3 linked regions of the Homo sapiens genome follow. The protein of the gene in region 2 purifies or fractionates together with the protein of the main gene of each other region. This does not show direct contact. Each region holds a gene or a part of one and is shown on either strand. Other genes may lie near its edges.

What was found. The genes of interacting proteins can lie anywhere in the genome.
Region 1: the proteins of FKBP9 (region 2) and PTPRS purify together in Homo sapiens (affinity purification with mass spectrometry; 2 studies listed by BioGRID and IntAct, with this or other methods). This does not show direct contact.
Region 3: the proteins of FKBP9 (region 2) and TCF20 purify together in Homo sapiens (co-immunoprecipitation; 3 studies listed by BioGRID and IntAct, with this or other methods). This does not show direct contact.

Annotation. Positions count from the first base shown.
Region 1 is NC_000019.10:5,330,683-5,338,344, reverse strand, and holds part of PTPRS (receptor-type tyrosine-protein phosphatase S isoform 1 precursor), read left to right. Parts: intron 1-278; exon of another isoform or gene 279-888; intron 889-1,005; exon of another isoform or gene 1,006-1,097; intron 1,098-1,389; exon of another isoform or gene 1,390-1,483; intron 1,484-1,570; exon of another isoform or gene 1,571-1,657; intron 1,658-1,781; exon of another isoform or gene 1,782-1,850; intron 1,851-7,662. UniProt on the Homo sapiens protein: Cell surface receptor that binds to glycosaminoglycans, including chondroitin sulfate proteoglycans and heparan sulfate proteoglycan.
Region 2 is NC_000007.14:32,953,190-32,960,950, reverse strand, and holds the start of FKBP9 (peptidyl-prolyl cis-trans isomerase FKBP9 isoform 1 precursor), read right to left. Parts: upstream 3,512-7,761; 5' UTR 3,378-3,511; coding exon 3,157-3,377; intron 1-3,156. UniProt on the Homo sapiens protein: PPIases accelerate the folding of proteins during protein synthesis.
Region 3 is NC_000022.11:42,267,524-42,275,614, forward strand, and holds the start of TCF20 (transcription factor 20), read right to left. Parts: upstream 3,131-8,091; 5' UTR 2,816-3,130; exon of another isoform or gene 790-2,815; intron 1-789. UniProt on the Homo sapiens protein: Transcriptional activator that binds to the regulatory region of MMP3 and thereby controls stromelysin expression. It stimulates the activity of various transcriptional activators such as JUN, SP1, PAX6 and ETS1, suggesting a function as a coactivator.

The DNA of each region.
Region 1 (7,662 bases), on a different chromosome or scaffold from region 2:
CTGGGGGCCACCGCCCGCCATACTCCATCATCCTGAGAGTTGTTCTAATTGGGCTCAGGCAAACAAAACGTCGCAGGAGACCCAGGCTGCCTGGTGAGCTCACGCACTTTTCTATTTCTGCCACCCTGGCCGATGACATTGCCCCTAACCCCCCAGGGGGTGACAGAGACTGGTACTGTCAGTGGCCGTCCAGAGATGCCGTCCCAAGAGGCGGTGGACTGGCCCGCTCCCCACTCCCCGCGGGAGATGGGTGACAGGTCATTTTGGCGTGGCCCGGCTGAGGCGCTGGAGGGTGCTACTGGTTGGCAGGTCAGCTCCGGGGACGATTTCCCCCTCTCCAGGAAACCTTGAGAGCCTCTGAAGTCTGCGTGAGGTGGCGACAGAGAAGGGGACATTCAAACCCCAGGTTCCTGCCTGCTGCCAGCAGAGAAAAAAAAATCACTCCTTATACCCCGGTTGAGCGTTCAGTGCGCCTTTTTTCCCTGCCTCCCAGGGGATTTCAGGCATCGTCCAGTGTCCATGGACCCTGCTTGGAGACACAAGTCCATTTTCCCCCAATTTCCACCATGGAACAGGGGGAAGCTTCGTGGATGCCAGGGATTTCGTGGTAGCATCTGGGTGGGGAGACCTGGAGCCATCACTGTGCACCCATTTTTTTCTTCTTTGGGTCGCATAGAGCCTGGGGCTCTGCCTGGGTTTCCCCAGACCTGGTACCAGTCTGGAGGCAAATCTATCTCTGCTCATCAAACGTCTTTCTGGGAGGTGACTTGGTTTCCCCTTCTGCCTTCGGGGTTGGCGTTGAACAGCGGTTCACAGATGTCTGAGGGCAGCGCACACCTCCACTTGCCAAGATGGGGAGACCTGTGGCTTCGCTGATTATTCCAGCGGCTGCATGGCCCCAATACAATAGTTAGTGGGATGGCCGGAGAGGGACGGGCAGGGACGGTGTGACTTGGTGGTGCGACGTGGCATTTCTACCCGAGCGCCCCGTGGCCCCGCGTTCACCTGCTTTCTGTGACGGTGCAGCCGCCGTGTGCGTGGGGGAAGAAGCGGGGCGTGGAGAGAGTTCGGGATGGGGGCGAGCGGGAGGGAAAACCCTAAAAATAAAAAGGGATATTTATAAACCCAGCGGGTTTGGGGGATAATTGACAAAGCTTAATGTTTTTCGGCTGAGAGCAATTCCTTCCCCCTGCTACCCATTAAGCTCCATTTGCAGAGTCGGTCGGAGCCACGGGAAGATCTTGAGATGAGCTTTAGGTTTGGCGGGCGCAGTGCTGACCGCTGTAGCCCCCTTCTGGGAGGGTCTCGTACTTTCTGGAAGGAGACAGGGGTCCCAGAAAGGGGCACTCCCCAGCTCTCCTCTGCATCCAGGGTAGGCTCCTGGCTCACCTTCCAATGGGTGGGTGTCCTCTTAGAATTTGCAAGGAGGATGAGAACCCTTCTCGGGCAAAGCCTGTGCAGGTTGCCCTTCCTCCGTCCTTCCCTGCGGCAAAAGATGCCCAGGGAGGGGAATTTGAAGAGAGACCCTCCCCCCCACCACCCGCCGCCGCCCCACCCTCCAACCGCTCACCAGGCAGAGTGGCTCAGCCTCCGGTGGGGACAGGAGGAGAGGAGATTAAGACATAACTGCTGTTCCTCGCAGGATTCGTGTGGCAAGCTGATACAAAACAAAACAAAAAAACCAAAAATTCACCATGGATTCACGGACCAAGGCACGTATCCGGGGCTTGAAGGTTTCAAGGGCTTTTTAAACTGTGAATTTTGTCATTTTCACACCTTACCTTGCTCTGGAATCGGAAAGCTGCCAGCTTGTGGCTTGCGGGGCAGAGGAGAGGGGATGCTGGAAGGGGATTGAGGCTCAAATGCATGTCATCTTATCACCAGGTGACATTCTGAATTGAGGAAGGGGGACACGGAGAGAGGAAGTGAAGTGTAGGGGATGTGATCGAGGGAAAGGGTGGCTGTTGTCTCACGCAGAGAGTGGCAGCCCCAAAATGTCTAGGAAACAGGTGACACCTGGGTCTCTCTAACCCTGAGGTTCAAGAGTGTGGAGTGTGTGGTTTCCCCCCCGCCCCCCCCCCTTTTCCTTTAAGGAAAGAAAAGACTCTCAACCAAAAAGGGAAGAAAAAAAAAAACCCGACGTACCATTTCTGTCTTGTCTCTGGCTGATATTTGAGAAGCGCTGGGGAGGGGGTTGTGTGTGGGGAATTTGAAAAATCAATTGGCTTACACTTCTCCAAAGGCGAAAATTAACGGGTAGGAGTGATTCACGGACAGGCCCTCCACTTTCACATCGCTTTATTTTTGTCTCTCTCTTTTTTTTTTTTCCTCCTCCTCCTCCTCCATGGAGCTGCCGGTCCCCCAACATCGTGGCCTGGCCAGACTGGACCTTGGGGCTGGTGCTATTCTGGGCTAGCCGTGGAATCCCCTCTTCTGTTCCCCGGAATCAAGGCACCCTCTGCGCCCCGCAGAGGCCGAGGGGATATTCCACATCTGAAAATAAACCCAGGTTTCTGTGCGGCTTCCTGTTTCCTTCTGATTCCCGCGGATCCCACCCTGGTTGGGGGTTCAGAGCCTGGATTTTTGGATCATGGGGACTCCCTCCTCCGGTCCCCATCGCCGTAACTGGGGCTGGATCACAAATGTCCCGTTTCATGGGGACAGATTTCATCTCGTACTCTTTATGTTATCTGGGTGGCCTTGCTCCTTTTAAGTTGTTTTTGATCTTTGCCATAAGCCCCTTATAGGAAGGGCCAGCTGTCTCCTGTTCCCCCTACCTGGAGAACTGAAAATTCCCCTTTTTCTCCCAGATCTCACCTGCCTGCCTGCCTTCCTTCCTTCCTGGATGACTTCCCCTCTTCCCTTTCAGTTCTCCGTGCAGGAGCTTCCTCACTTACAGAATGAGGTTACCCCTCTGGGTTCCAGGTCAGAGCCCTGACTTGAGCCACCCTCCTCACTTGAGCTGTGCAAACTAGGGCGGGTTGCCTGACCTCTCTGTGTTCTCTCATCTCTAAGATCAGTACAGTCGCAGTCTGCGTCGCGGCGAGCCTTGACATGAGATGCTGTGGGTAAACATGCCTCCCCTGGCTCTCAACGCGTCCGCAGTCAGTCGCATGCATCCTTCCTTCCGCTCCTGGACACCCAGAGGGGTATCCGGCGGGCGGAGAAGCCATGGCTCTGGAAGCCTGGGACCCTCGGATGAGGCAGGCTGTGGGGAGAGAGGCTGGGAGGATGGCCCATCGTCGCGCTGTCACGTGGGTAATTGAGAGTTTGCGGAAATTCAGGGGTTCTGGGGAAGCGAGGTTGGCGCGTCTGTGTGTGTATAATTTAATGCCGCTTATAATTAACCCCCGTGATCAGCAAATGAGGGGATGTCGGGGGGATAATAACAGCTGCTCCGACTATTTAGAGTTGGCGCCCCGTGCCAGGCCCTCTGCTAAGTAAGCAAGTCAGTAGCATCCTTGTCTCCTCCAACCTGCCGTCCCCTGTCAGCGGAGTTGCTGTGATCTGAGCCCTATTTTGCAGAGAGGGAAACTGAGGCACAGGGAGGGGCCTTCACTGGCCTGAGGTCACTTCACACAGCCCACAAGCTGTTGGCTGCCACAACCTGGATTCCTAACGCCTGGAAGGAGCTCTGCCCGATTGTCAGGGATGTTTGTTTGGACAGCAGTCCATCTGCTGCGGGGGCCACCTGAATCGCTACAGAGACACCCCCCGCACACACACACCCCAGGGCTCTTGACTGCCTTTTCTCAGAGGTTAAGAGCAAGGATGCTGGACTGAGGCTGCATGGGGTTCAAATCCCGGCTCTGCCGACTTGTTGGCTGTGTGACCTGGGGCAAGTTGCTCAACCTCTCTGTGCTTCCGTCTTCCTCATCTGTCTATGGAGAAGAGTAACAGTGCCCACCTTGAGGGATTGTTAGGAGGAAGAAATGAGTTAACGTGTGTAAGCACAGATTCAGAACGGCACCTAGAATGTAGCTGCCACCTCTATTCTGTTTTTGTTATTATTTTTGACAACATGGGAGCTACACTGATATGTTGAAGGACCTGCCCAAGAGGGGCTCTCCAGTGTCCACCCGCGCCCCGCTACCCCGCCCTCAGCCCCCCGATGGGGTCCAGCACCAGGGAGATGTCAGGATGACTCAGCCACTGCAAACTGGGGCGTTCCCCTTCACTGGCTGCTTAATCAAGGCCGCCCCACTTCTGCGGCAGGACTGGGCGACTGGCGGGAGCTGAACCACAGGGGGCCTGGATGGTGGACAGGGAGGACACGTGGCTGCCTTGGGAGCTCCAGGCACTCCAGGGACTCCACATGTGGCTCCCAACTTCCAGAGCCCCTGGTGGGCCCGAGTGATCACCAAAGGGGGGAGTTTGGGGGGGATTTGGGGGTTTAACAGCAGTCATTTGATGGGCACTCAGGAAAGTGATCGGTTGACAAGCATGGTGTGCGAGCGAGCATGCATGCATTCATTCGAATATTCACCAGTTCATTAATTCATTCATTCCATCAGGATTGCTGGAAACCTGCTGCTAAGGAACTTGGAAGCCAGAATCTAAGCAGCTGTGGGGCTTGGGCTAGTAATAAAGCTGTTCTGTGCCTCAGTTTCCTGATCTGTAAAATGGGTGCTTTGACATTGCCTCTATCATAAGTGGAGACAGATGAACTGGTGTGGGGGGCACCAAGGACAGAGACTGAGAGTGGCACCTGCTGCTTTGTGGCTGGAGGTGAGGGGGGCGGAAACAAGAAGAGAAGAGTTGACTTTAGCTGGGGAAGACCACACAGGACCCCCCACCCCAAGGAGTTCGAATCGCATTGTGTGTGTGTGTGTGTGTGTGTGACAGGACTCACACTGTTGCTCAGGCTGGAGTGCAGTGATGCCATAATGGCTCACTGCAGTGTCTTAACTCCTGGGCTCAAGCAATCCTCCCACCTCAGCCTCCCAAGTAGCTGGGGACTATAGGCATCCACCAGCACGCCCAGCTGACTTTTGTATTATTATTATTATTATTATTATTATTTATTTATTTTTTTTTTGTAGAGATGGGTTTCACCATATTGCTCAGGCTGGTCTCAAACTCCTGGGTTCAAGCTATCTGCCTGCCTTGGCCTCGGAAAATGCTGGGATTCCAGGTGTGAGCCACCACACCTGGCGAATTGGCATTTTTTATTTATTTTTTATTTTATTTTATTTATTTGAGACAGTCTTGCTCTGTCGCCAGGCTGGAGTGCAACGGCGTGATCTCAGCTCACTGCAATCTCCGCCTCCCGGGTTCAAGTGGTTCTCCTGCCTCAGCCTCCCGAGTAGCTGGGATTACAGGCACCCGCCACCACATCTGGCTAATTTCTGTATTTTTGGTAGAGATGGGGTTTTACCCCATTGGCCAGGCTGGTCTCAAACTCCTGACATCAAGTGATCCGCCTGCCTTGGCCTCCCAAAGTGCCGGGATTACAGGCGTGAGCCACCGCGTCTAACAAATTGCATTTTTTAGATGTGCGGTCAGAGTTCTCTGAAAGCCCCCAGAGCTGGGCTGCCAACATCAGGATCAACAGAAAACCTGGAATGTTGGGAATGCTTCTTGGAACATCTGTCAGGCCAAGGCCCAGAGAGGGAGAGCAACTTGCCCAAGACCACACAGCCATGCCTGCCTGCCTGCTGCTGGGCCTTGCGCAGGAGGATGGACAGGGACCCCTTTCACCAGTCCAAAGGGAGAAACCGAGGCAGGAAGCCATGGCGGGTGTGTGATTCTCAAGCCATAACGCCTGTCAGGGCTGGAGTCTCCACTCCAGCGGGTCGTATGGGCCAAAAAGGCTTCTTCAACCTCCAAGGAAGCCCTGAATGGCTCCAGGGCCAGATCTGTTGGTTTTTCCAAGGAAAAGCAGAAATCTAGATTTTAAGTAAAATTGCCCAATTTTGGCTGGGCATGATGGCTCACGCCTGTAATCCCAGCACTTTGGGAGACCAAGGCAGGCAGATCACCTAAGGTCAGAAGTTTGAGACCAGCCTGGCCAACATGGTGAAACCCCGCCTCTACTAAAAATACAAAAATAATCTGGGCATGGTGGTGCATACCTGTAATCGCAGCTACTTGGGAGGCTGAGACAGGAGAATCGCTTGAACCTGGGAGGCGGAGGTTGCAGTGAGCTGAGATCATGCCACTTGCACTCCAGCCTGGGCGATAGAGTGAGACTCTGTCTAAAAAAAAAAAAAAATTGCCCTATTTTAACATCCTTGGGTTGAAACATCTTAACATGGCACAGTACAGAAATCCAGGGCCACCGTGGACTTTGACCCCTTCCCCAACAATTAAAAGTTGCGTGACTTCTGACACCTCCATTGCCGTCCGCGGGCCTCAGTTTCCAGGCCTGTGAAATGGGTTTAAGACTCCCAGCCACCTCTGCGGTTCTTTAGAGGCACCAGTGTGATAGCTTACAGAGAGTGCTGAGAACAGGGCCTGGGCCAGCGTCCGCGCTCGATAAACGTTGGCTCTGATTATATTAATATTGGTCATAATGATAAACTTGACTTAAATTAAATACTGCGTAGAAGGAAGCCGGCTGTCCCGCGGGGCAGGGCTGCGAATTATCTACTGGCGGCAGGACCTGCTTCTCCATCCCTCGTTCTTTCTGTAGCGCAGTCGTTTGCTCTTGGGGCTGGAGCACCCGGGTTACCAGTATTACTCGTTGAGTGTACTGCTGTGGTTCTCAGCCGGGGTCACTTTTGCTCCCCTGGGCACACTTGGCAACGTCTGGGGACATTTTTGGGTGTCATGTCCAGGGGGGTGCTGCTGGTATGGAGTAGGTGGAAGCCAGAGATGCTGCTCAACTCTGTGTAATGGCCAGGATGACCCCATCCCAGATAATGACCCCACCCTCATGTACACTGTGCTGAGGTTTAGAAACCCTGATTTTGCCAGGCATGGTGGCTCACGTCCATAATCCCAACACTTTGGGAGGTTAAAGCGGGAGGATTGCTTGAGCCTAGGAGTTCAAGATCAGACTGGGCAACACAGTGAGACCTCATCTCTACAAAAAACAAAAAAAAATCAGCCGAGGGTTGGGGTGCACACGTACGGTCCCAGCTACTGGGGAGGCTGAGGTGGGAGGATTGCTTGAGCCTAAGAGTTTGAGGCTGCAGTGAGCTATGATTGCATCACTCCACTCCAGCCTGGGCAACAGAGCAAGGCCTTCTCTTTTTTTTTTTTTTTTTTTTTTAAAAAAAGAAGCCCTGACTTATGCTGAAGACCCAAGACAGCGAGAGAAATCAGGCAGATGGTGCCTTTGTCCCTGAGCGTCCACCCAACACGCTCCCTGACGTCTCGCGGGGCCAGAACGCTTAGATTGCTAATGGGTTCCCTCTGCACATCTGTCCTGGTTCCACTGCCCCATTGATTATTGGAAGTGGGTAATTGCCCCTGTCGGATGAATTCTAGAGAGTGTGAACTGCCGGGGTTTCCGGCAACAGTGCTGGCTTCAACTCCCAGATATCAGCAGGGTGCAGAGAGGCTGCCAGGTCCCAGGACTTTTTCTCTTGGCCCCATCTGGCCCTGGGAGCCCAGACTCCGGCCCTGCTGGGGAAGGGCATTAGGGGTCTGAACGCCCCAGGTTCGGATCCTGACAAAGACCCTCCCTGGCTGTGTGAGATGACCTCATTATTTCCT
Region 2 (7,761 bases):
ATGAGGTACCTACCTCACTGTCTTGAGAAGTTAAACAAATTATTCTAAGATTAAATGAGTTAACATATGTGAAGGCACATGGTAAGAACTATGTGTGAACTCTATGAGAGACAGAGTGTGTGCTACTGTCTTACTGTACTTATCACACCATGTTGTAATAGCCTAGGCTGTAAGTGGTAGGGATGGGGAAGAAGCATACTAGACTAGGACTAGTCTCTCTCTTGAGGGATAGACGCTGAAAAACGTTTGATGAATGGATGGTAGATCCTCCATGCTCTTTCAACTGCCCTACACTACCTCACAGTGGCTGCCAGCCCTAGAGATGTTCTAGATAGTAGGACAACTTGTTCTACTGGAATTAATTACCATCAACTCAAGCAAGAAATTCTTCCCTATGAAAGAAGCACATGAAAGAAGATACACAAATGGTCAATACGCATATGATGCTCAACATCGTTAGCCATTAGAGAAATGCAGATCGAAACCACAATGAGATATCATTTCACACCCACTAAATGGTTATAATCAAAGACACAGGCCAGGCGTGGTGGCTCCCGCCTGTAATCCCAGCACTTTGGGAGGCCGAGGTGGGCAGATCACCTGAGGTCAGGAGTTCAAGACCAGCCTGGCCAACATGGTGAAACCTCGTCTCTACTAAAAATACAAAAATTAGCCAGGCGTGGTGGCAGGCACCTGTAATCCCAGCTACTCAGGAGGCTGAGGTAAGAGAATTGCTTGAACCCGGGAGGCAGGGAGGTTGCAGTGAGCTGTGATCGCACCATTGCACTCCAGCCTGGGTGACAAGAGCAAAATTCCATCTCAAAAAAAAAAAAAAAAAAAAAGACAAGTACAAGTGTTGTTGAGACCGTGGAGAACTATGAACCTTCATACACTGCTGGTGGGAATGTAAAATGGTGCAGCCATTGTGGGGAAACAGGTTGGCTATTCTTCAAAACGTTTATAACATAGGTGCCATAGGACGCAGCAATTCCAACTCCTAGGTATATATCCAAAAAAAGGAAAAGGTACATCCACACAAAACCTTGCACATGAATGTTCATAACATCATTCATGATAGCCAAAAAGTATAAGCAATCCAAATGTCCATCAACTGATGAATGGACACAATGGAATATTACATATACAGCCACAAAAAGGAATGAAGTACTGATATACCTTACACCGTAAATGAACCATGAAAGAAGCCAATTATAAATAAATAACAAAGCACCTCAAATTATATGATTCCATTTATACAAAATGTCCAGAAGAGGCAAATCCATAGAGACATAAAGTGGATTCGTGGCTGAAAGGGACTGGAGGGCAGTCTAACTGGGGTTGGGGAGTGACTGATAATGGGTCCAGCGTTTCTTTTTTGGGGGTGATGAAAATGTTCTGGAAATAGCTAGTTGTGATGTTTGCACTACTCTGTGAATATACTAAAAAACACTGAATTGTACACACCAAATGGGCAAATTGTATGGCATTATATCTCAATAAAGCTGTTTTTTTTGTTTCGTTTTTTGTTTTTTGTTTTGTTTTGTTTTTTGAGACGGAGTCTCCCTGTCACCCAGGTTGGAGTGCAGTGGCACGTCTCGGCTCACTGCAGGCTCCGCCTCCCAGGTTCACGCCATTCTCCTGTCTCAACCTCCCGCGTAGTTGGGATTACAGGCGCCCGCCACCTCGCCCGGCTAATTTTTTGTATTTTTAGTAGAGACCGGGTTTCACCGTGTTAGCCAGGATGGTCTCGATCTCCTGACCTCGTGATCCGCCCGCCTCGGCCTCCCAAAGTGCTGGGATTACAGGCGTGAGCCACCGCGCCCGGCCTGTTGTTTTTTTTTTTTAAAGTAACTAAAATGGTAGTAAGAATGACCATTTCTAAGCGCTTGCTAGTGCCACATACTATGCTGAACAGCTTTTGTATATTCATTGTCTGGAACTTCAAAAAAGTCAAGAGTCTACAAAATATTCGTAATGACCCTAGGCCTTGGGGCACATAGCAGGGGCTCAACAAATAGCTCTCTCTGCCTGATCTAGTGTTCGCGAAGGGAAGTGCTGGCACAGACCAGGGTTTGTAACAAAAGCCTTGGCGAGGAGTAGCCTGGTGCTGGACGAAGAGAGGCCTGTTAACCCCGAACCTAAACTGGAGGGAAACGGGAGAGCAGTGCTGTGATCCTGAGGCAGAGCTGAGAGAAGGAGTTCTGGGCTTGATATAGGGCCTGGTATAAAGCAGAGTGACGGTCCTGGACTACCTCCTGCCCACGAGAGGTGTCGTGTTGTGTTTTGTTTTGTGATGGGATCTCTCTCTGTCTCCCAGGCTGCAGTGCAATGGCACGATCATAGCTCACAGCAGCCCCAAACTCCTGGGCTCAAGCGATCCTCCCGCCTCGTTCTCTCAAAGTGCTGGGACTACAGGCGTGAGCCACCACGCCCAGCCCCAAGAGAGGTTTTTGTATGGCAGGAAAGGAAGGGCAGTGGTAGTTGCGCACACAGACTCTGGAGTTGGATTAAACAATCTGACTCCATTGTTTAAACACGTTTCTTAGCCGCAGTTGCTTGTTACCTTACTGATAAAATGAGGGTAGTGATAGTACCTACCTCACAAGACTGCTGTACAATTAAATGAGTTCACTACAATATGGAAAGTACTTAGAACTACACCTACACATTGTTAACAGCTCATTGTATGTTTGGGGCTGCTAGCCTCTTCATCATTGTTCTGTGTGAGAAGCACCATCTGACTAGATTCCCAAGGGAGCGGAGGGAAGGAACAGGAAAGGGCGAAGAGAGGCAGGCACGAACATCCACTCTTGGGGGTCCAGTTGTGCAACGTGGCCTCCACTTACACTGATTATTTTACACTGATTTTGCGTGTGTCCATGCGCTGGGAGGAAAGGGAGGACGTGGTCTGCCCCAACCCCGCTGCTCAAGGTCCTCCAAGGGTCCAGTCCCCGGCTGGCAGCCTAGGGCACGTGAGGGCCGGGAGGCTCACCCGCGGCGGAGGGTCTGGGGTCCGGGAGGATCTGGGCAGCGGAAGAAGGGAGGAGCGCGGCTGCACGGGGCGGAGCTAGGGGAGGTCCGGCAGGAGGGAAAGGCCTGTCCGGAGAGAGGGACGCGCATCCGCTGAGGCCGCGCCGGGCGCCAAGGGCGCGGTACCTGGAGTCGAACTTCTGGCCGTCGGGGAACGTCCCCACGTAGTGGTAGCGCACGAAGTCGCCGCTGCGCACGGTGCGCGGGCACTCGTCGGGCACGAAGCGCCGCTCGATCTGCAGCTCCGCGTCGGAGCCCAGGCCCGCCACGGGCGCTGCCTGCCCGGTCACCCAGAGCAGCAGCAGGAGCAGCGGTGGCGGCGGGGGCCTCCAGCCCCGGAACGCCATCGGGGCGGCGAGAAGAGTGGCGCGGACGCAGCGCGGCGCTCGGGCGGCACGGGTCGGCCTGGGCGTTCGGCTGCGTTTGCAAACGTGGACCGGGTCTCCTGGCCCTACCCGGGCTGCAGCCGCCACCCCGTCTCCCCGGCCGCCCGCCCTCCCGGCCGCAGCTCCAGGGGAGGAGCCCAGCCTGGCCGCGCGCCGAGGGCGGGCCTGCTGCGCCCTGCCCCGCCCGGCATTGGGAATGTGCGTGCCGCAGCGGGGAGGGGGGCTGGGAACTCCAGTGGGGACCAAGTCTGGGCCTAGAGAGGGCGTGTCCCCGAGCGAGACACTGTGATCTCCGGACAAGGCTTTGGCCCAAAGTCGGAAGAGAAAAGCGCGTACTGCCCAAGCCCACCCGCTGGTCTCCGCCCGTCCCTGGAGACACCGGGTTTGGTGCCGTGAGGGGCTCCTACGTGGCCGTGGATCCAATTTTCCCTTGCTGCTTTGGAGAGGGAGGGAAAATTAGATTTTAATTTTTTAAGCTTAGTTACAAGGGTATGGTCTACCTTGAAAGAGACCGAAACCATCCTTCAGGACTTTTTTTTTTTTTTTTTAATACTGCTTAAAGGAAAAGGAAGGCCGGGCGCCGTGGCTCACGCCTGTAATCCCAACGCTTTGGGAGGCCAAGGCAGGCGGATCACGAGGTCAGGAGATGGAGACCATCCTGGCCAACATGATGAAACCCCGTCTCTACTAAAAATACAAAAAAATTAGCCAGGCTTGGTGGCGCGTGCCTGTAGTCCCAGCTACTCGGGAGGCTGAGGTAGGAGAATCGCTGGAACCCGGGAGGCGGAGGTTGCAGCGAGCCGAGATCGCGCCACTGCACACCAGCCCTGGCGACAGTACGAGACACTGTCTCCAAAAAAAGAAAAGGGAGGCATGTATTGCGAGAGGCTCCCGTGACACTTGTCTAGGCAAAAGTTTTAAGGCACCGTGAGGGTCCTCCAAGCCATCAGCGGCCGCACTGTGAGCTGATACTTGCAGACATCCTACAAGCTCCCATATACGAGCCTATGCCAGGGAGGACTTCATCATAGAGACCCAGAAGCCACAGGAATCCATTAGAGTAATCAGATGCACTTGGAATTGGAATTGGGTGTTATAATTTATTAAAATTTTGGAATAATGAAAGCAAATCACCAACTCTTTCTCAACTCGTTTTGGAAGCAAACACAATTCTGATACCAAAACCTGGCAAAGAGAGCAACAAAAAAGAAAAATAAAACTGAAAAAACAGGGCACGATCTAATTTATAAATATAAATGCAAAAATACTGAATAAAACGTAATAAAATCGGATTCAACCGCATATTAGGCCAGGCGCAGTGGCTCACACCTGTAACCCTAGCACTTTGGGAGGCCGAGGTGGTTGGATCACCTGAAGTCAGGAGTTCAAGACCAGCCTGTCCAACATGGTGAAACCCTGGCTCTACTAAAAATACAAAAATTAGCAGGGTGTGGTGGCACGGCCTGTAGTCCCAGCTACTTGGGAGGCTGAGGCAGAAAAATTGCTGGAACCTGGGAGTCGAAGGTTGCAATGAGCCGAGATTGTGCCACTAAATTGCACCACTGCACTCCAGCCCAGGCGACAGAGTGAGACTCTGCCTCAAAAAAAAAATAAATAAAAAATTTAAAAAACGGTATGTTAAAGGAAAAATATACCATTACATGGGCTACCTAGGTGAGCTTCTGTAAATTAACAAAATGTCAGTGTTCTCTGTAAGATGAAGATAAAACAATCATTATAAGATTACTATAATCTTAGGTTTCAGGGATCGAATGAGAAACTACATGAATAACAAGAAAAATGTTCATTGTTCATCTTAGAGCTTATTCTAGAAATAGAACACCTATTAATAAAATTATAGGACAGAAGAAGGGAAAAAAAGCTCTAAGATCATGTGGCCATAGACTCAAAACGGCATGAGATAAAATTCAACATCTACCTCTGATTTTGAAAACAAACAGAGGGCCTGGTGGCTCACTTCTGTAATCCTGGCACTTTAGAAGGCCGAGGCAGGAGTATCACTTGAGCCCAGGAGTTTGAGACCAGCCTGGGCAACATGGCAAAACCCCACCTCTACGAAAAAATACAAAAATTACTCACCCCTGTAATCCCAGCACTTTGGGAGGCCAAGGGGGGCAGATTGCTTGATCTCAGGAGTTTGAGACCAGCCTGGGCAACCTGGTGAAACCCCGTCTCTACTAAAAGTACAAAAATTAGCTAGGTGTGGTGTTGCATGCCTATAATCCCAGCTACTCCGGTGGCTGAGGCAGGAGAATCGCTTGAACCCCAGAGGCAGAGGTTGCACTGAGCCAAGATCGCACAATTGCACTCCAGCCTGGGTGACAGAGCAAAACTCTATCTCAAAAAAAAAAAAAAAAAAAAAAGAAAAAACTTTCTGATTGTAGTCTATTAAGTCTATTAATGGCACTGACCACCAAAAAGTACTTTTGCATGTCATCTTTGTGTTGTCAAACAATACCTTGATTTTGAAGTATATAATCATTGATAATAAAAATTGTTATACATTTTATTGGCATGAATTCAGACATTCAGTTCATTCACTACACATATACTTTGGTCCAGTCTTTGCTTCACTTATGTCTCCGTGGCTTCAGGCAAGTCAGGTAACTTCTTACTTCCACCCTTGACTGTAAAACAGATGATACTTATCTTGCCTACTGACCTCTTACGGCAATTTGGGGAAATATCTTGGTGCTGAATTAGTTTCTAGGCTCAGACGCTAAACATACAATACATATTAATTGGTAAAGACTTGGGATTTGAAACTTGATCTTTTGAACTAGATGCCAAGAAGTCCAATCTTCATGACAACTCTGTATAAGGTCATAGGTGTAATCACTACTTTACAGAAAAAATAAACTCCAGCCTGGGCAACTGAGTGATACCCTGTCTCAAAAAGAAAAACAAAAACCAAACAAAAATTAGCCAGATGTGGTGGTGTGTGCCTGTAGTCCCAGCTATTTGGGAAGCTGATGTTGGAGGATCGCTTGAGCCCTGGATGTTGAGGCTGCAGTGAGCCATGATTTCACCACTGCACAATTGGCCTGGGTGACAGAGAGAGACTTTGTCTCAAAAAAAAAAAAAAAAAAAAAAAAAAAAGGTAGAGCAGGGCGGCCTGCACCTGTAGTCCCCGTTCAGCTACTTCGGAGGCTGAGGTGGAAGATCATCTTCAACCTAGAAGATGGAGGCTGCAATGAATTGTGATCACACCACTGCACTCCAGCCTAGGTGACAGAGTGAGAGCCTGTCTAAAAATATATATAAAATAAAATAAAAATGAATGTCTGCTCGTGGTGGCAGGATCTAGGAGCCTGTAGTCCTAACTACTTGAGAGCCTGAGGTGGGAGGATCTCTTGAGCCCAGAAGTTCAAGTCCAGCCTGGGCAACATACCACGACTCTGTCTCAAAAAAGAAAAAAAAAATCTTGCTATTAAAAAATGTCACAAATTTTTTAAAGACAAATGATAAATTAAAAAAATACTTGGCCAGGCGCTGTGGCTCACGCCTGTAATCCCAACACTTTGGGAGGCCGAGGCGGGCGGATCGCGAGGACAGGAGATCGAGACCATCCTGGCTAACACGGTGAAACCCCATCTCTACTAAAAATACAAAAATTAGCCGGGCGTGGTAGCGGGCGCCTGTAGTCCCAGCTACTCAGGAGGCTGAGGCAGGAGAATGGCGTGAACCCGGGAAGGGGAGCTTGCAGTGAGTTGAGATCGCACCACTGCACTCCAGCCTGGCGACAGAGCAAGACTCCATCTCAAAAAAAAAAAAAAAAAAAAAAAAAAAACAACTTACGGCCAGGCATGGTGGCTCACGCCTGTAATCCCAGCACTTTGAGAGGCTGAGGCGGGTGGATCATGAGGTCAGGAGTTCAAGACCAGCCTGGCCAAGATGGTGAAACCCCGTCTCTACTAAAAATACAAAAATTAGCTGGGCGTGGTGGCAGGCATCTGTAATCCCAGCTACTCGGGAGGCTGAGGCAGGAGAATCACTTGAACCCCAGGGACGGAGGTTGCAGTGAGCCCAGATCACACCACTGCACTCCAGCCTGGGCAACAGAGTGAGACTCTGTCTCAAAACAAACAAACAAAAAAACCCTTACAACTATATGACAAAACAAATGTGTAAGCATAAGTGAACACCCCATCTGTGTTGGCCTGAAATTCTTTGAGGCTCCTCCCATTTAGAAGTGGAGTTTATGATTATCCTGTTGAATCTGGATAGGCCCGCAGCTGTGCTGACCAATAGAATACAGTCTAACTGGTGGGCCGTGACTTCTGGGCTAGATTATAAAAGGCCATGTTGTTTCCACCTGGTTCAC
Region 3 (8,091 bases), on a different chromosome or scaffold from region 2:
AATCCCATCTCTACTAAAAATACAAAAATTAGCTGGGCGTGGTGGTGCGCACCTGTAGTCCCAGCTACTCAGGAGGCTGAGGTGGGAGAATTGCTTGAACCCGGGAGGCGGAGGTTACAGTGGGCCGAGATAGTGCCACTGCACTCCAGCCTGGCAACAGAGAGAGACTCTGTCTCAAAAAAACAAACAAAAAAGTGTTTACTTGTGTGATAGGCCTGATGGTAACATACAAGAAAATTACTACCAAACTGTCTCCGAAGTCAATAATTATAAGCACTCTGCCCCTATGCTGGGATCCTTTTGGAAACTGTTCAAAGAGACTGAATCAAAAAGTGATCTAGCCCAGGCGCAGTGGTTCACACCTGTAATCCCAGCACTTTGGGAAGTCAAGGCAGGCGGATCACCTGAGGTCAGGAGTTCAAGACCAGCCTGGCTAACATGGCGAAATGTTGTCTCTACTTAAAATACAAAAATTAGCCGGGTGTGGTAGTGTATGCCTCTAATCCCAGCTACTCGGGAGGCTGACGCAGGAGAATCACCTGAAACTGGGAGGTAGAGGCTGCAGTGAGCTGAGATCGTGCCACTGCACTCCAGCCTGGACAACAGAACAACACTGTGTCAAAATAAATAAGTAAATAAAAGGGGATTTAATTTTAAAAATTAAATAATATATAAAAATAAAAAGTGATCTGAGAAAGACATATTGTAACATATTGGGCTCATATCCGGCCCAGCAGCACAGTTCTAGAAATTTAAGACAAATTCTGAGGTTGGTATAGAAATACTTACCAGTCAAAAGCACAGCCTAAGGCCTTCACACACCATAAAATCAGTGAAACTAATTGCGGTTCTTCAGCATCTGCGGAGCACTGGCTACCAGTAAGGAGAAAGTTGGGGATGCAGATAATCAGTGCACCCTGAGGTGACAGTTAATTCCACTAGCATACCATTTCACAGGAGATGTTATGGCATTCTACTTCATCCCCCTACTCTGAGAATGCTGAAACTGGCTGGAAATTTCAACAGTTAGCCAAATGTCAAATGTCCTTTGAAGAACTTTAATAAAATCTGGATCCTCCAAAATCCCCTGCGTAGAAAGATCTTGGAACTCCTCTGAGCCAACATACACAGACCCAATCACATGTTATCCACACATTTTCCAAGTAGACAAATATTCTCTGAAACATTTTCTGATAACTTCTTTCACAAAGACAAAAAATATGTTAAGGTGCATTCCACCTAGGTCAGAATAATACACTTTCTGATCTGAAGCACAGAACAGCAAGTGGGATTTCAAAAAAGAGCGTACCCTGACCAACTTTTATGCTCTGTTGAAGGCAGAGGCTGGAAGCTTAAAGACAGGCTTTTAAAAGCCAGCTAAGGTACAGTCTGCATTTCTCAGAAAAGTTGCCTATGGCTAAAACAGAGCACAAAATGAGAGATAAAAAAGCAAAACCACAAACCCCTGTACCGTCTGACCCGGGAGTCCTCACTTAACAGATGAGAAAATTACCAGGGAAAGTAACTTGCCCTGGGCTGCAGTTTATTTGGCGTCAAAGCTGTAAGCAGATTCCTGGTCTCCCAGGTCGGAATTCAGTGTAGCTTCCCCATCCACCTAACTGCCACCCCACGGAAGATGCTGTATAAAACTCTTCACTCTTCACTGAGGCTGTTAACATAAGGGTCCAATTATCATTCAAAGATCAGCCTGTTAGATAATAGCTCGAAAATTCCATCCATTTTACAGCAGTTACCAGAGACATCTAATCTTCGAGGAAAAAAAAGCAAAAAGGAAAAGGGGGAAATCCTAATTTTGACCTGACCCCTAAGGTCAAACTAAAGGATTGAATACAGACCAGCAGACCGTATTGGTATCCGCAACCACAAAAACAGACAATAATCCCACCCACAAGCAGAGGAAGACGGCCGCTCCTCGGCACCGCCCCCCAACTCACTAAATTCCACTCCCATTCCGGCGTCCAGAGGACAGTGCACCTCCCGCCGTAGCCTGAGAGGGATCGGCCCGATTGGCCACGCTCCTTCAAACCACCACTTTCCCCCGAAAAAGGGACGAAAGCCTCAGGTCCCCAAACGAGCGCTCCCTCGCCCAGAGACCCCGGCTTGCACACCCCGCCCTGTTCCCCGCGGCGCGGGAGGAGAGGCCGCCCCACACAGGAAGTGTGTCCTGCGCCGGGACCTTGCGCCCAACCCGCCGGTACCTGCCCTCCGCCCCCAACAGGCGAGAAGCAGCCGCGTCCACATGGCTTCAGGTGTTCACATGGCAGTAAACGGGCCCCTGCTCTCCTGGGCGCCCCAGCGCGGCGCCCTCCCGCCCACATCCCGGCCCAGCCCCGCTGGCCTCGCCTCCAGCCCGTAGCCAAGAGGCGAGCGCGGCCGGTGCCCCCGGGGCTGCCAGGGGCCCCGAAGCAGGCGGCGCTGACTCCCGGACGCCGCCCGCTCACACCCGCCGCCTTTGCACCCAAGGCCTCGCGCGACCAGCAGGTAGACCTTCCCTCCGCACCCTCGGGCCAGCACCGGCACCCAAGCCCCGCCGGAACCCCGGGCCGGCCCAAGACACCTTAGCCCTCTGATGCCAGGCCTGGCCCGGGCCCCTGCCCGCACTCTTGGGTCGGGCCGGGCAGCAACACTCCCCTCAGCACCCCAAGCCCTGACTCGGAGTCCAGGAGGCTCCGCACTCCCAGGTTGGGTCCGGCCGGGACCTCTGCTCCCAGCCCCCGAGGCCGGACACCCCGGCCCGGCCCCAGTCCTTCAGGCCCAACCCTCTCCCTGCCCCTCAGGCCCGGGAGGCGGTTACCTGCAGGAGCCCCCCGCCCAGTCCCTCGGCCTCCGCCGGGGGCGGGCGGGGAGGGAGCGGTGGCGACGGCGGGCGGCGCTGCGCGGGGTGGGGGTGGGGGTGGCTCCGCCGCCTCCAGCTCGGGCGCCCGGGCCGGCGGCGGGGCGGGCCGGGGCCGCGGCCCCTCGAGGCTCGCTCCGGCCCGCGCGCTCGCTCCCCGGTCAGGCGCGCCTCAGGGCGGGCTCCCCTGGCGGAGGCCGCGGCCGCCTCGCAGGGGCCGAAAGCGGCTGGGCTCGGGGTTTTTTCTCTCCATTCTCCCAACACACAGGAAATAACAGAGCGTCAGGTGACGGCGCGCGGCCAATGGGGAGGCTCCGGGCCGCGGCGCGCGGGCGGGCGGGAGGGCGCGCGGCGGGGCGGGGCGCGCGGCGGGGGCGGGGCGCTGGGGGCGGGGCCGGGCGCGCGCGTGCCCACCCGCGTGCGGCGGCGTCGAGGCTGGCGCGCGCCGGGTAGGGATCGCGAAGACCCCCACCTCGCGGCAGGGTCGCACGGGGTTCTCCTCTGCGGCCGCTGGGCGCCGCGCGCCACCCGCCCAGTGCCATCTTGGCCTGCGCCTCAGGGCCGTCTTGGGGGTGGACGCGAGCCAACTTTCTGGGGGAGTTGGTGGCCCGGAATCTCTCTGGGATTTCTGGAGTTCCCTGGAGCCTCCAACTCCAGAATCGCGCCTCTTGCGGCCCGGGAGGTCCGCGGGCGAGGACCCGGTCTCCTCTCGGTGACCTGTTTAGTGGGGTCGGGCGTGGGGGCGGCTCCTGCCCGCCAAGAGCCCTCTGGGCCGGGGGCAGCCCAAGACCTAGCTGGTCCCGCCTGGGTCCCTGGCAGCCCCCGCCCATGGGTTCCAGGTGTCCGTGGAGGAACGACTTGGGTCCTCTCAGAGCCTCAGTTTCCACCGCGGAAAACGCGAGGAGGGAGGCCCACCTACCTCACCTGTAAAACGGACGCTCCAGCTGCCTTCTGCTGCGGCATTAAGAAGCTGCAATGCCAGGCTGACTGCGCCCAGGGTCCCGAATTAATTTGCCGATAAGGCGGAGGATTTGCGGTGCCAAGGCCTCAGCTTGTTCCCAGCCTTCCTTTGCAAACCTGATGTTTCTAAAGCAAAGGAAGGGCTTGACTTCTTTATAAAGAAAATCGCAATTGTAGAGCAACTAATATGTAGATGTTGGTGCCCCCACGGCCATCAAAAGTGACAAGGCCAGCAAGAGTAGGATGCGTTGAGAATTTGTGATCCTGCCCCTGACCTTTGACCTGGCCAAATTCTCCTCCCACTTTGGGCCTCAGTTTCCTGTGGGTGAGGAGAGTTTGGATTAGATGTCCCTAATGTTGGCTAAAATTGCCGATTCTAAATTAGGCTCCCATCTGTCCTAGATGTTAGGGGAGTATGTGGCTTCCTCTCCTGAAGCAACCCAACTTAAAAGTTGGGATTGGAAAAGTGCTTCCGGCAGCAGGTGGGGATTGTCAGGAACCAGGTGTGGTCTGGAACCCAGATTTCCATATATTTGAGGTACACAGCTTCCCGGGGCCTGCTTTTACTTTTTGACCTTTCACCCCACCTAGCCATTGCCTTTTCTCAGGCTACCCAAGGAGGGTCTCAGGGTCCCAGGCAGAGCCCCAGGTGGTCCTGGGCCCCTTGGCAGGAGCATGTACTTGGGGAAGGCAGTGATTTCTCCTGGCTTCTGTCCAATCTCACAAAGTGGGGGCTGGCTCCAAAGCAGGTCAGGACTATTCCTGGGGACTTGATTCCCCAACACCTCCTGCATGCCAGGCTCTTCCGGGGCAGAGCTGAACAAGCCACGGGGCCCTGCCCTCTGATTATTCCCATTGTTCTTCTGAGTTTCATTTTCAAATTCTCAGGCCTCAAGACTTTTAAAAGACCAGTACCTGGCTTCTCCTGGGATCAGGGCTGTAAAGGGAAAGCTGGAAGAGGCACTCAGCACAAATCAATGTTTTCTGGACAAAAATAGGAGAATGCAGGGCCTCCTGAAGACTGGTGTTGGGGGCACCCTTAATTTCTTGAGAGAATTCATGAAGAAAGATGAATCCTTTTTCCTTAGAGTCCCCTGCCCCATCATTCTTCCATTCTTTCCCTTCTTCATAACCTCACTTGCGTCTCAGATGCAGGGCCCGGGGGATGCTGACAATCTGTCGCAGAGCCTCATTCAAAAGGGAAAGAATAAAGAATGCAGACAGATAACTGGAGTCCAGGCGCCTGTCAGCTCCTGCCTCTTATAACCATGCAGCCCCCTCCCCGCCCTTTCAGACCCTGCCAGAACATTGCCCCAATGCCCTCCACCTGGAAACTTCCCCAGTCCTTGGACCAGGCCAGCTGGGCCTCTTTATCCCTGAAAGCCTGCCACTTTCTCTTTTGGTTCCATCTGGAAAAAGAACGTGTATGGGCATCATAGCCAACAGGAAGATGTGGGTTACTCTTGGACTGCGTGGCCTTGGACAAGTCACTTCCCCCTTTGGTTTCCTCAGCTATAAAATGGAGATAATATTATCTCACTGGGCCGGGTGTGGTGGCTCACACCTGTAATCCCAGCACTTTGGGAAGCCGAGGTGTGAGGATTGCTTGAGGCCAGGAGTTCAAGACCAACCTGCGCAACACAGTGAGACTCCCCCTCATCTCTATTTATTTAAAAGAAAAAAATTTTTTTTTAATTACCTCACTCATAAGGTGTTGTGGGACTCTCAAGAGAGCTGCATAGGCCAGGCACAGTGGCTTACGCCTGTAATCCCAGCACTTGGGAGGCCAAGGGGGGTGTATCACCTGAGGTCAGGAGTTCAAGACCACCCTGACCAACATGGTGAAACCCTGTCTCTACTAAAAATACAAAAATTAGCTGGGCGTGGTGGCGGGCGCCTGTAATCCCAGCTACTTGGGAGGCTGAGGCAGGAGAATCGCCTGAACCCTGGAGGCAAAGGTTGCAGTTAGCTGAGATTGTGCTGTTGCACTCCAGCCTGGGCGACAAGAGCAAAACTCCGTCTCAAAAAAAAAAAAAAAAAAAAAAAAAAAATTCAGTGCAGTACCAGGCACTGTTAACACTAGCTGCATGTTCTATGACATGGACACAAAAGGACATGAGTAGACTGAGGCTCAAACAGGTTAAGTTGCTGCCCAAGATTGCACAGTGGCAGGCACTCAATAACTGAGCGCCCCTTCCTCTGAAATCACATTAGTGTTTTCTGTTGTTCTCTCACTGTCTCAAATGCATGGATCCTGTTTTTCCTACCACACTCGGAGCTCTTTAAGGAAAGAACAGTAAAAAAAAAAACAAACAAAAAAACAAAAACAGTAGACTAGTTTTTTTCCCCCTCCCTCCTAACCCAGTCCACTCAAAAATTACTTATTGAACTGAATCAGTGTATCAATTCTAGAAACAAAATTAATCCTTTCCCTCCTCCTCTGGCTCAAAGACGGCTTTTGGAAACACTGTATCACTCCTTTTATTACAAACTCCTCTGCCCTCCTCCAGGCGCCTGGGCCACTCCAGGATTACAAATGGAGCCTTCTGCCTCTAGGTCACTGATTCTACTACCATCTGTCAGCGTGGATTGATTGAGGAGACTGGCCCTGCTCGGCAGATCAGTGACTTGTGCGAAGTGAGCCAGGGTGTCGGTGCCTTCAGAGCAGGCGGATGTCCTTCCTCACTTGCCAGCTCTCGTGAGCAGACACACAGCCCTCACCTTTATCCTTCACCAAGCTCCAGCTCTCCTTCCTCTTGGGAGGCGCCGCCTGCTAACTCAGTCACACCAAGAGGGAGGCCTGGAATTCCTGCTCACAAGCTCGGGGCTTCATCTGCAGTCTGCCAGGAGGCAACTTACAAAAGCCTCTGGCTAACAGAGCGGGAAACTCCCCACAGCCTCCTGCTGTGCCTGTCCCCAAGCCACGCACTGTCCCCTTGCAAAGCACAAGGATACTGAGAGTGCACAAACAGCAGGGGTGGAGAGCCTCTGTGGGCACGCCCTCATTCTGTGCCCTCATTCCACAGGAGCCCCTGCTTTGTGCAAGTCTCTGAGCCCGCATGGAGGGAGCATGGGGGCTCAGAACAGTTCTTTCTGGGGCAAGGTCAGGGGAGGCTCTAAAGTTATGGTGGTGGGGAGGGCCTTAAAACAGAGGACCAGAGAATACCAAGACTTAGGGGTGTGGGGGAGAGCCACCTGCTGTGCCCAGGAGGACTGTGCCCAGTGCAGGGGAAAAAGATGAAGCTGCGGAGTTGGGCAAGGGTGGGATCCTGCAGGGCCTTAGAGCATTGACATGTTTGGCATGGATTTGTTTCACAGGGTCCCACAGAAACTTCTGCTCTCCAGGTTTGCCCCTCCACTCTGCCCTCCAGGATAGAAGTGTGGCATCCTAATCTGGGATGCATCCATCTCTCCCCCTGGACTGTGAGCATATGCAGGGCAGAGACACCTCTGCTTCTCTTGGGTCTCCGGCATCCTGTGCAGGGTAGGGCACCATGTCCATTAAAATGATGTTAATGAGGATGATACAGCCCAGAGGAATCCAGGCTTACTATGAACCAGGCACTATGCAGATTTCCCTTTATCATCCCAGTTCTTCTTATTTGCAGCAGTCTAATGAGTTTGGTACTGTTATCACCCCTATTTTACAGATGGGGCCACTGAGGTGCAAAGAGTTTAACTTATCCCAAGTCACACAGTTTGGAAGAGGCTGAGCTGGTATTTGAACCCAGGTTTTCAGAGGCTGCACTCTTAACCACCAAGCTTCCCAGCACTCAGCAAACACTGGAAAGACAGAGATGGACCTAGACAGTCAGTAGGACCAAAAGTCTGCAGGCCGATAGGGAAAGAATGTAAGAGGACGGCATGGGCAGCGCCAGCCCCTCCAGCAGTCATATATTAAGCCCTGGACACTGGGCAGCTCGGGCAGGTCGGGGGGCCTCAGACTCTCGGACCCCATGCCTGGAAGACCACGGTCTGCCCAACAAGCAGCAGCTGCTGTGAATCGACTTACACATCTTCCCCACAGGTGAGCAGAGAGCTAACACCTGAGGATAGGCCAAGAAACGGGAAGCCCGTGCAACCTGAGCGCACAGATCACCCCCACCTGCCCGGCACTCACTGTCCCCAGTGGCTGGACTCTCATCGGGCCAGTCACTGAGCTGGCGCCAGCCTGGTCTCACCAGTGTGTGTCTTTAAATCATCCAATTTCTTCAGCTGTAAATTGGGCTGGGAGGGGCCAGGTGAGCTGCCTGCCTCAGGGGAGTCGGCGCCCTTAC